2 separate regions of the Homo sapiens genome follow, and region 1 is linked to region 2. Evidence: fine-mapped expression QTL. Tissue or cell type: prefrontal cortex. Region 2 holds a variant in brackets; the other region holds the start of a gene. All regions are shown on one strand. Distances are from middle to middle.

Region 1 (4,384 bases), 25 kb after region 2:
TATCCATGTGGTTATGCCCAATGGGCACCTAGATATGCTGACCAGGAGGTGAGGAGAGAAGCTAAGAATCTACTTTGGCAGCTGAAGTTGTGGGAGCTGGAAATACTCTGATTATTTCTAATGTCTCAGCTCAGCCTTAAAGGATGGCATTCTTAGAAGAGTGGGGTGCTAGAGCTTTGAACTTCACATTTAATTCCAGCTCTACCACTTACTACTAGCTGTGTGAAGTCAGGGAAACCACTTAACCTCTCAGAACCTTAGTTTCCTCATTTGCAAAACAGGAATAATAACAGTACTCACTTCACGGGGTGCCCAAACTTAAGTGCAATAATGTACATAAAGTGTTTACCAAATACAAAATGCTCAGTAATGGTGGCTGTGATGTCATCAGCTGAGACTGGAGCTGAGAGAGGGGCCCTTGAGCTCCATGCTTTGAGTTTGGATTTTGAACTGGATTTTGAGTTTGGAGTTTACAGGCCTGCTGTAACTAGCTTTGGTCACCTATACCTAGGGACACTCTATAGCATGGCTGGGGGACTAGGATGGGGCAAGTGAGATGCCCCAAATGTAAGGAGGCCCTGGCTCTCAAGTGCTGACTGCACTTGCAAGGCCCTGAGACTGAGCTCCCCTTAAACTCAGCACCTCAGGCACCTCAGTGGGCTCACTGTCCTTCCAGCCCTGCTCCATGTCCAAGTCCCTTGATCTGCCTGTCCCCAGGACAACCCACTTTAAGACAAGGCTCCTTCACCCTGTAGTTCCCTTGGAGCTGGGGATGGGTCTCCTGTCTCTTGGGAGAAGAAGTTTCCCAAAATAGGCTGGGTGCTGCATCCCCCTGGATGCCAGTTGTGGGTGGAACTTCTCAGACTGAGTTTTTAACAAACACTGCCAAAGACCCCCCATCCCCAGTGAGATGTGAGTGTGGTGTTTCTGGGTCAGAAGGCGGCTTTTTCAGACCCCCAGTCTGTGGAAGCCTACATTTTGTACTGTGTGTGTGGGTGTATGTGTGTGTGTGTGTATGTGAAGAAAAGCTGTTTTCTTTAACAGGGGGGTGTGGAGAGGAGGCAGCCAGAAAGGCAGCTCCAAGTTGTGGATTTCCTGGGGGCTCTTCATTTAAAGCGGCCGCACCACTTTCCACAATTCTGTTTTTTCAGAGAATGCTCTCAAGGCCTGGAGGGAGGGCATGACAGGGGTATGGGGGAGGGGGGTGGCAGAGAGGCAAGATGGTGACCCTGATCTGGAGCAGTCAAACATTCTCCCAGAGACAAAACCGGCCTGGCTCTGCCCTGCCCCGCTGCTTCATTACCTTGGCCCAGGTTCCCTAATGTCTGTGAGTGGGCCTGACACCTCCCCATCAGGATACTGAGGGCTGGCAAGGCGGCCTTCATCTCTGTTCCAGCTGGGGATGGAAGGCCAGGAGAAGGATGGGGGGACCGACTACTGGGAGGAGCAAAATGGGGAGGAGCAAAATGGGGAGGGGGCTGGGAGAGTGAATGGGTGGATTTGTGATTGGGAATGATCCAAAGGAGAGGGGGTAGAAGGAGGGGTGGAAAGGGAAGGGGACTGACCAAATACAGTGGGATGGGGCCAGGGGCTGATATAACCGAGATGGGGAAGGGGTGAGTCTGGGTCTGGGAAAAACTGATCCAAAGGCAGAAAGGGAGGGGCGAAATGGAGGAGGGTACCGTGAACAGAGTAAGGGGGCTGGGAGAGGAAATTAGAGGGGAGGCGCTGGCCAGCAGGCAAGGCCTGAGCCCTCTCCCCCGGCGGTGGTTGGGGGGGGGCCGTGTCCATATAAAGCGGGTCGGCGGCCCCTGCGGTCCCGGAGCCGCGCGGGCAGGGGCTGCCGCAGCCGATGGCGGGGCGCAGCGACATGGATCCGCCCGCCGCGTTCTCTGGCTTCCCTGCCCTGCCAGCGGTCGCGCCGTCGGGGCCGCCGCCGTCGCCGCTCGCAGGAGCCGAGCCAGGGCGGGAGCCAGAGGAGGCGGCGGCTGGCCGCGGAGAGGCGGCCCCCACGCCCGCGCCCGGCCCGGGGCGGCGGCGGCGGCGGCCCCTGCAGCGCGGGAAGCCGCCCTACTCGTACATCGCGCTCATCGCCATGGCTCTGGCGCACGCCCCGGGCCGCCGCCTCACGCTGGCCGCCATCTACCGCTTCATCACCGAACGCTTTGCCTTCTACCGCGACAGCCCGCGCAAGTGGCAGAACAGCATCCGCCACAATCTCACGCTCAACGACTGCTTCGTCAAGGTGCCCCGCGAGCCGGGCAACCCGGGCAAGGGCAACTACTGGACGCTGGACCCCGCGGCCGCAGACATGTTCGACAACGGCAGCTTCCTGCGGCGCCGCAAGCGCTTCAAGCGCGCCGAGCTGCCCGCGCACGCGGCCGCGGCGCCAGGGCCGCCGCTCCCCTTCCCCTACGCGCCCTACGCGCCCGCGCCCGGCCCCGCGCTGCTGGTGCCGCCGCCTTCTGCCGGACCGGGCCCCTCGCCGCCCGCGCGTCTGTTCAGCGTCGACAGCCTGGTGAACCTGCAGCCGGAGCTAGCGGGGCTGGGCGCCCCCGAGCCGCCCTGCTGCGCCGCGCCCGACGCCGCAGCCGCAGCCTTCCCGCCCTGCGCTGCCGCCGCCTCCCCGCCACTCTACTCGCAGGTCCCCGACCGCCTGGTACTGCCCGCGACGCGCCCCGGCCCCGGCCCGCTGCCCGCTGAGCCCCTCCTGGCCTTGGCCGGGCCGGCAGCCGCTCTCGGCCCGCTCAGCCCTGGGGAGGCCTACCTGAGGCAGCCGGGCTTCGCGTCGGGGCTGGAGCGCTACCTGTGAGCCTGCGCCGCGCGGGCAGGCACCTGTGCGACCTGTGCCCCGGACCTGCGGCGCCGCCCTCGAGCGCCCCATCTCTACCCCCCACCCTGGCTTGGAGCACACCCTGCGCCTCTCGTCGTGGCCTCCTGGACTCAAACTCCTGCTACATCCTTCTCCGTCCCCCATCCCTGGGGAGGCTCCCACCATCTCGCCACTGGACAGAAGCGTCCCCTTTGACCTGCCAGCCTCTCATTTCTTCTCCCTCCACTTGTGAGCGCCCCCAGCTTTGCGGCGCCCCCCACCCCAGCGCTGTCTGTGGGTCCCTTGCCCCGGAGCTGACTCGCCTCCAGTGAGTCCATACCCCAGGTTTCCTGGTGAGTTCCAAGCCTTTGGAAGCCAGATCTGTGATCCCAAGCCGCCTCCTCCACCGACTGTACTTCATCAACCTTCTCTCATGTTTTTCCGACACTCCTGGGTCAGACTCCTGGGTTCATGACTTACTTGCTAGCGTCCCTTCATTTTCCCACAAGTTTGCCCCCCACCTCCACTTACCTGTCTGCCCTCAGCTTCTTCCTGGGAGAGAGCCCCCCTTTCACGTAGACACACCTGGCTGCCTTCTTCACGCCCTGAGGACACTTCTTGGAGATTTCAGACAGGCAGCACCAGGGCTCCTGACTGAAAGGGGAGTTGGTGGGCCTTTAGGTCTGCCCCATCCCCTGGAAAACTTAGGACTTATTGGGTTATTATTATTTTTAATTAAAGCTGGTTTAATTAAAAAGAAAGAAACTTTTTTCTGGACTTGGTGTGCTGGCTGGTGACTTGGGGGAGTGGTCTGGGGAGACGGGTGAGCTTTATTCTAGATCTTGGGTTGCCACATGGGGTGAACCTCCTTGTGAGACATCAATCAGAAGTTCATGAAATGGGATTAGGAAGTGATTCTCCAGCAGGATTAGTGGCTAACACAATTTTGTTTTAAAAAGGAAGTGATTCAGCCATAGCTGTGCACATAGTAGGCCTAGTCAAATGCCATCTCCTGCATCTCAGCCTGGTAGAGACGAGATGGGCTGGGCATGTGTGTGTACACACTTGTGTGAATGTATCTGAGCAGCAGGTTGTCTGCTCTCTGGGATTATTCCCAGCTCCCATGGATAAAGGAGCACTGGCCGTTGATTCACTCCTCCAGTTAGTTAATGTGCTGAGCCTGTGCTAGACACTGGGGAAATATTACTGAATGAATGGGCAAAATCCCTGCCTCATGGAGGTTGTGGGCCAGTGGGAAGAGTCATTAATCCAACCATCAACGCTCAGAGAAATAAGATAAGTGCTCTACAGCCTTGCACTCAAAGTGTGGTCCACAGACCTACAACATCACCTGGGAGCTTGTTAGAAATGCAGAATCTGGCAGGACGTGCTGGCTCATGCCTGTAGTCCCAGCATTTTGGGAGGCCAAGGCAGGAGGATCGGTTGAGGCCAGGAGTTTGGGATCAGCCTGGCCTAACGTAGTGAGACCTCATTTAAGTAAATAAATAGAAATGCAGGATCTTGGCCCCACTCAGACTCACTGAATCATCAGATTCTGCATTTTAGCAAAAT
Region 2 (4,384 bases):
TTCCCTGTCCCACACCACCAAAACAACCACAAGTCCCATCCCTCCTCCCTCCTAGCAGAACGCATGCTTCAGCACTCCCTGCTTGTCCTGTGGCTGCTCCATGGAGAACTGGATCTGTCAGGTCTTGATCATGATGTGACTTCTACCTGGAACTTTTTCCACAGGAGAAGCTGTCAAAATCTCACCTATTTTTCAGTCTATGTCAGAATCTCCCAGTGCAAGACTGCCAGAGTCAAGAATACATGTTCAAGTAATTCAGTGAATGAATTAATGCCTCACTCTAATACCTGACTCTGCCTTCCCCATTAACCCCAGCTGGAGAGGTCTCTCACCTTCTAGCACCTGCCTCCTGGCTTATGTGTGTGTGTGTGTGTGTATATATATTTCAATAAAACAAGTGCCAGGCTGGGTGCAGTGGCTCACGCCTGTAATCCCAGTTACTTGGGAGGCTGAGGAAGGAGAATCTCTTGAACCTGGGAGGTGGAGGTTGCAGTGAGCTGAGATCGCACCACTGCACTCCAGCCTGGGCAACAGAGAGAGACTATCTGAAAAAAAAAAAAAAATTCCCCCCACCACGCCGCCCCCCCCACAAAATGCCAGCTTGAAAACACAAGCTAGAGGCAGACTCAAGATGTCATGAAGTCAACCCCTTCCAGCATCCCTGACAGGTAGCTACCCTAGCAACAGATAACTCACCCCTCCCTGAGCAGCCCTCTTCACTGGATACTTCAGACTTCCAGAAAGTTCCACTGTGTTCTTCCACATTCTCAGAGCTCTTTCATCATGACAGGGGCTGAAGCAACGTCTGATAATGCAGTAGGAGAATAAGTGCAAAGTGCAGGGGAGGGTGTGCAAACTTTCCAGAGAAGTGGGGCAGGGAATTGGGATCAATTACAGAGGGAGTATGAGTATAAAAACTATCATTACAGCTGCTGTTTAGTGAATGTTTACTGTGCTCATGACTGCAAATCCTTATAGAGGGCAAGCTCGAATCCAGGTCTGCCTGTCTGCAGTCTAGTCTAAAACACCTCTTGGAACATAAACAAAATAAGAGTTTTGGGAGCAGATGGGTAGGGGGACAGCCAGGTGTATTAATTTTCTTTTGCTACATAATAAATCACCATTAACTTAGTGACTTAAAACAACATCCATCCCTGGGTGCGGTGGCTCACGCCTGTTATCCCAGCACGTTGGGAGGCTGAGGCAGGTGAATCACAAGGTCAGGAGAGTGAGACCATCCTGGCTAACATGGTGAAATCCCGTCTCTGCTAAAAATACAAAAAAATTAGCTGGGCACGGTGGCACGTGTCTGTAGTCCCAGCTACTTGGGAGGCTGAGGGAGGAGAATCGCTTGAACCAAGGAGGTGGAGGTTGCAGTGAGCCGAGGTCGTGGCACTGCACTCCAGCCTGGGCGACAGAGCAAGACTGTCTCAAAACAAACAAACAAACAAAAAAAACCACCATCCATTTTATTACCTCACAGTTCTGTAGGTCAGAAGTCTGTGCAGGCTTGACTGGGTTTTCTGCCCACAGTATCACAAGTCTGAAATCAAGGCTTCAGCTGGGCCTGGCTCTCATTCAGAGGCCCTGGGAAAGAATCACTTCCAAGCTCATTCACATTGTTGGCAGAATCCATTTCCTAGCAAGTCCTCATTACCATGGTCACTGCTGGCCATGGGGTGGCCTTGGTACTAGAGGCTGCTCTAGGGTCCCTTCCACGTGCACTCTCCACTTTCAAGATAGAGCCCTCCTCATGCTTTGAACTACTGACTTCTTTTCTGTCACCAGCTGGACAAAATTCTGCTTTTAAAGGGCTCAC[G/A]TGATTATCTTAGGCCTACCTGGTTAATCTCCCTATCTTAAGTCAACTGGTTAGTAACCTTAATTGCTTCTGCAAAATTCTTGCCATGTAATGTAACACATTCCACAGAAGAGCTAATTATCCAAGGGTGAAGGTCATTGGGGCAGGCAGAGTTCTATGATGTCCCCGGTGACCCTCACCCTTGTACAGTGCCCTCCCCTTTGAGTGTGTGTTGAACCTGTAAGGTTATGTTATGCTATGTGGCAAAAGGTAGATTAACTGGGTGGGCCCAATCAAATCCCATGGGTTCATTAAAAGTGAGTTTTCTCTGGCTGGTAAGAGAGAAGGAAGTGAGAATCAAGGCATGAGAAGTACTTGACCTGCCGTTACTGGCTTTGAAGGTAGTGGGGGCATGTGCAAGGAAGGGAGAATGGCTTCTAGGAGCTCCCCTCACCCCTGGCCGACAGCAAGGAAATGAGGACCTCGGTTCCACAGCTGGAAGGAACATTCTGCCAACAGTGTGAATGAGGCTGAAAGAACTTCTAGATGACAGCCCAGCCCTGCTGACATCTTTTTTTTTTTTTTTTAGACGGAGTCTCGCTCTGTCACCCAGGCTGGAGTGCACTGGCACGATCTCGGCTCACTGCAACCTCCCCCTCCCGGGTTCAGGCGATTCTCCTGCCTCAGCCTCCCGAGTAGCTGGGATTACAGGTGCACGCCACCATGCTTGCCTCATTTTTGTACTTTTAGTAGAGACAGGGTTTCACCATGTTGGCCAGGCTGGTCTTGAACTCCTGACCTCAAGTGATCCGCCAGCCTCGGCCTCCCAAAGTCCTGGGATTACAGATGTGAGCCACTGCGCCCAGCCCCCACTGACATCTTGATTCAGACGTTGTAATACTGTGAGCAGAGATCCCAGTCAGTTGCACTGCCCAGATATATGAACCAGAGGACTGTGAGGTAATAAACGGGATTGCTTTAAGCTGCTCTTTGTGGTAATTTGTTATGCAGCAATAGAAAACTAATATGCCGGGCAAACAGCACATCATTTGCCTGACCTAGGCCATCTCTTATTATCTACCTACATCCTCCTTTTTTCCTCCTCCTCCTATTCCTCTATTTAAAAAATAGTTTCATCTGAATATGACTCGTCCACAAAAAGGCTGATTCTGACACATGCTACAACACAGATGAACCTTGAAGACATTATGCTACATAAAATAAGCTAAGCCAGTCACAAAAATACAAATACTGTATGATTCCAAATATATGAGTAATCAGATTCATAGAGACAGAAAGCAGAATGGTGGTTGCCAGGGGCTGGGAGGATTGGGGAATGGGAGTATTGTTTAATGGGTCTGGAGTTTCAGTTTGGGAAGATGAAAAAGGTTCTGGAGATGAATGGTGGTAACGCTTGCATAACAACATGAAGGTACTTAATGCCATTGAATTGTACAATTAAAAATGGTTAAATGGGCTGGGTGTGGTGGCTCACGCCTGTAATACCAACACTTTGGGAGGCCAAGGTGGGTGGATCACTTGGTGTCAGGAGTTCAAGACCAACCTGGTCAACATGGTGAAACCCCGTCTCTACTAAAAATACAAAAATTATCCAGGTGTGGTGGCACATGCTTGTAATCCCAGCTACTTGGGAGGGTGAGGCAGGAGGATCACTTGAACCTGGGAGGGTGAGATTGTAGGGAGCTGAAATGGTGCCATTGCACTCCAGCCTGGGCAACAGAGCAAGACTTCGTCTCGGAAAAAAAAAAGTTAAATGGTGAATTTTGTGTTACGTTTATTTTAGCACAATAAAAACAATTTTTAAAATAGTCTCATCAAAGTAATGCATATCGTGGTTAAAAAGCAACAGCCTCCATCTCCCTGACACCTTCTATGACGTAAAAGACTTCAGACTCAGCCGTTTCTTCTAAGACTTGCCTCTATATATTTATTATGCTTCTCTTGCCTTTTTTTTCTTAATGTAGGCAGAATAAATGGTAAAGATTTCAAACAGTGAAAATTATGTCTTCATCCAACCCCCATTATCTCTGTCCACAAGCCCCCCTCAAAAAAGCAATGCCAGGTTTCCTGTATATTTTTCCCCTAGGTACTCAATGCATAAAATAAGCATATTCTATACATATATACATAGCTTCTTTCTCCTTTCTTTCTTTCTTTTTCTTCTTTTCTTTCTTTCTCTCTCTCCTTCCTTCCTTTTTTTTTTTTAACAGGAGACCAGAGTTTTATTATTACTCAAACCAGTCTCCCCCAAAACTTGGGGACTGCGGTTTTTAAGGATAAAATGATGGGCAGGTGGTCGGAAAGTGGGGAGTGCTGATTGATCCGGTTGGATATAAAATCTAGGGAGTCGAAGCTGTCCTCTTGCCATGAGTCAGTTTCTGGGCAGAAGCCACAAGACCAGATGAGCTAGTTTATCATTCTGGGTAGGGCCAGCTGATCTGTCGAGTACAGGGTCTTTAGTTACAGAGGAGGAAGGCAGTGGCAATCTGACATGTTAGGAATCCTGTACTGTGACTGTGTAGACAAGGTATGAGGCCAGCTCTCCTGAGGGGCTTTAATTGCTCT

Which allele goes with the higher level. Alleles are on the strand shown, and positions count from the first base shown. SD is a standard deviation of normalised expression in the study named.
In carriers of allele A in region 2, the expression in prefrontal cortex of the gene that starts at base 1,822 in region 1 tends to be higher than with G alone (moderate effect, 0.52 SD a copy in GTEx).

Evidence for each region. PIP is the estimated chance that this variant, and not a neighbour inherited with it, causes the effect. A credible set is the group of variants that fine-mapping cannot tell apart.
Region 1: FOXE3 starts here. The variant in region 2 is the best candidate, but not a certain one, in a credible set for the expression of FOXE3 in prefrontal cortex (GTEx, PIP 0.54).

Annotation. Positions count from the first base shown.
Region 1 is chr1:47,414,464-47,418,847 of GRCh38, forward strand. FOXE3 (forkhead box E3) reads left to right here and starts at 1,822. Exons shown (of 1, transcript NM_012186.3): 1 at 1,822-3,589. The coding sequence starts at 1,853. The coding sequence ends at 2,812. All of the region lies in intron 1 of LINC01389 (long intergenic non-protein coding RNA 1389), which reads right to left.
Region 2 is chr1:47,389,120-47,393,503 of GRCh38, forward strand. The region is part of intron 3 of LINC01389 (long intergenic non-protein coding RNA 1389); the gene reads right to left. Among named protein-coding and RNA genes, the nearest start is that of FOXE3, 25 kb to the right of the region's middle. The variant G/A (reference allele first, on the strand shown) is at 1,820.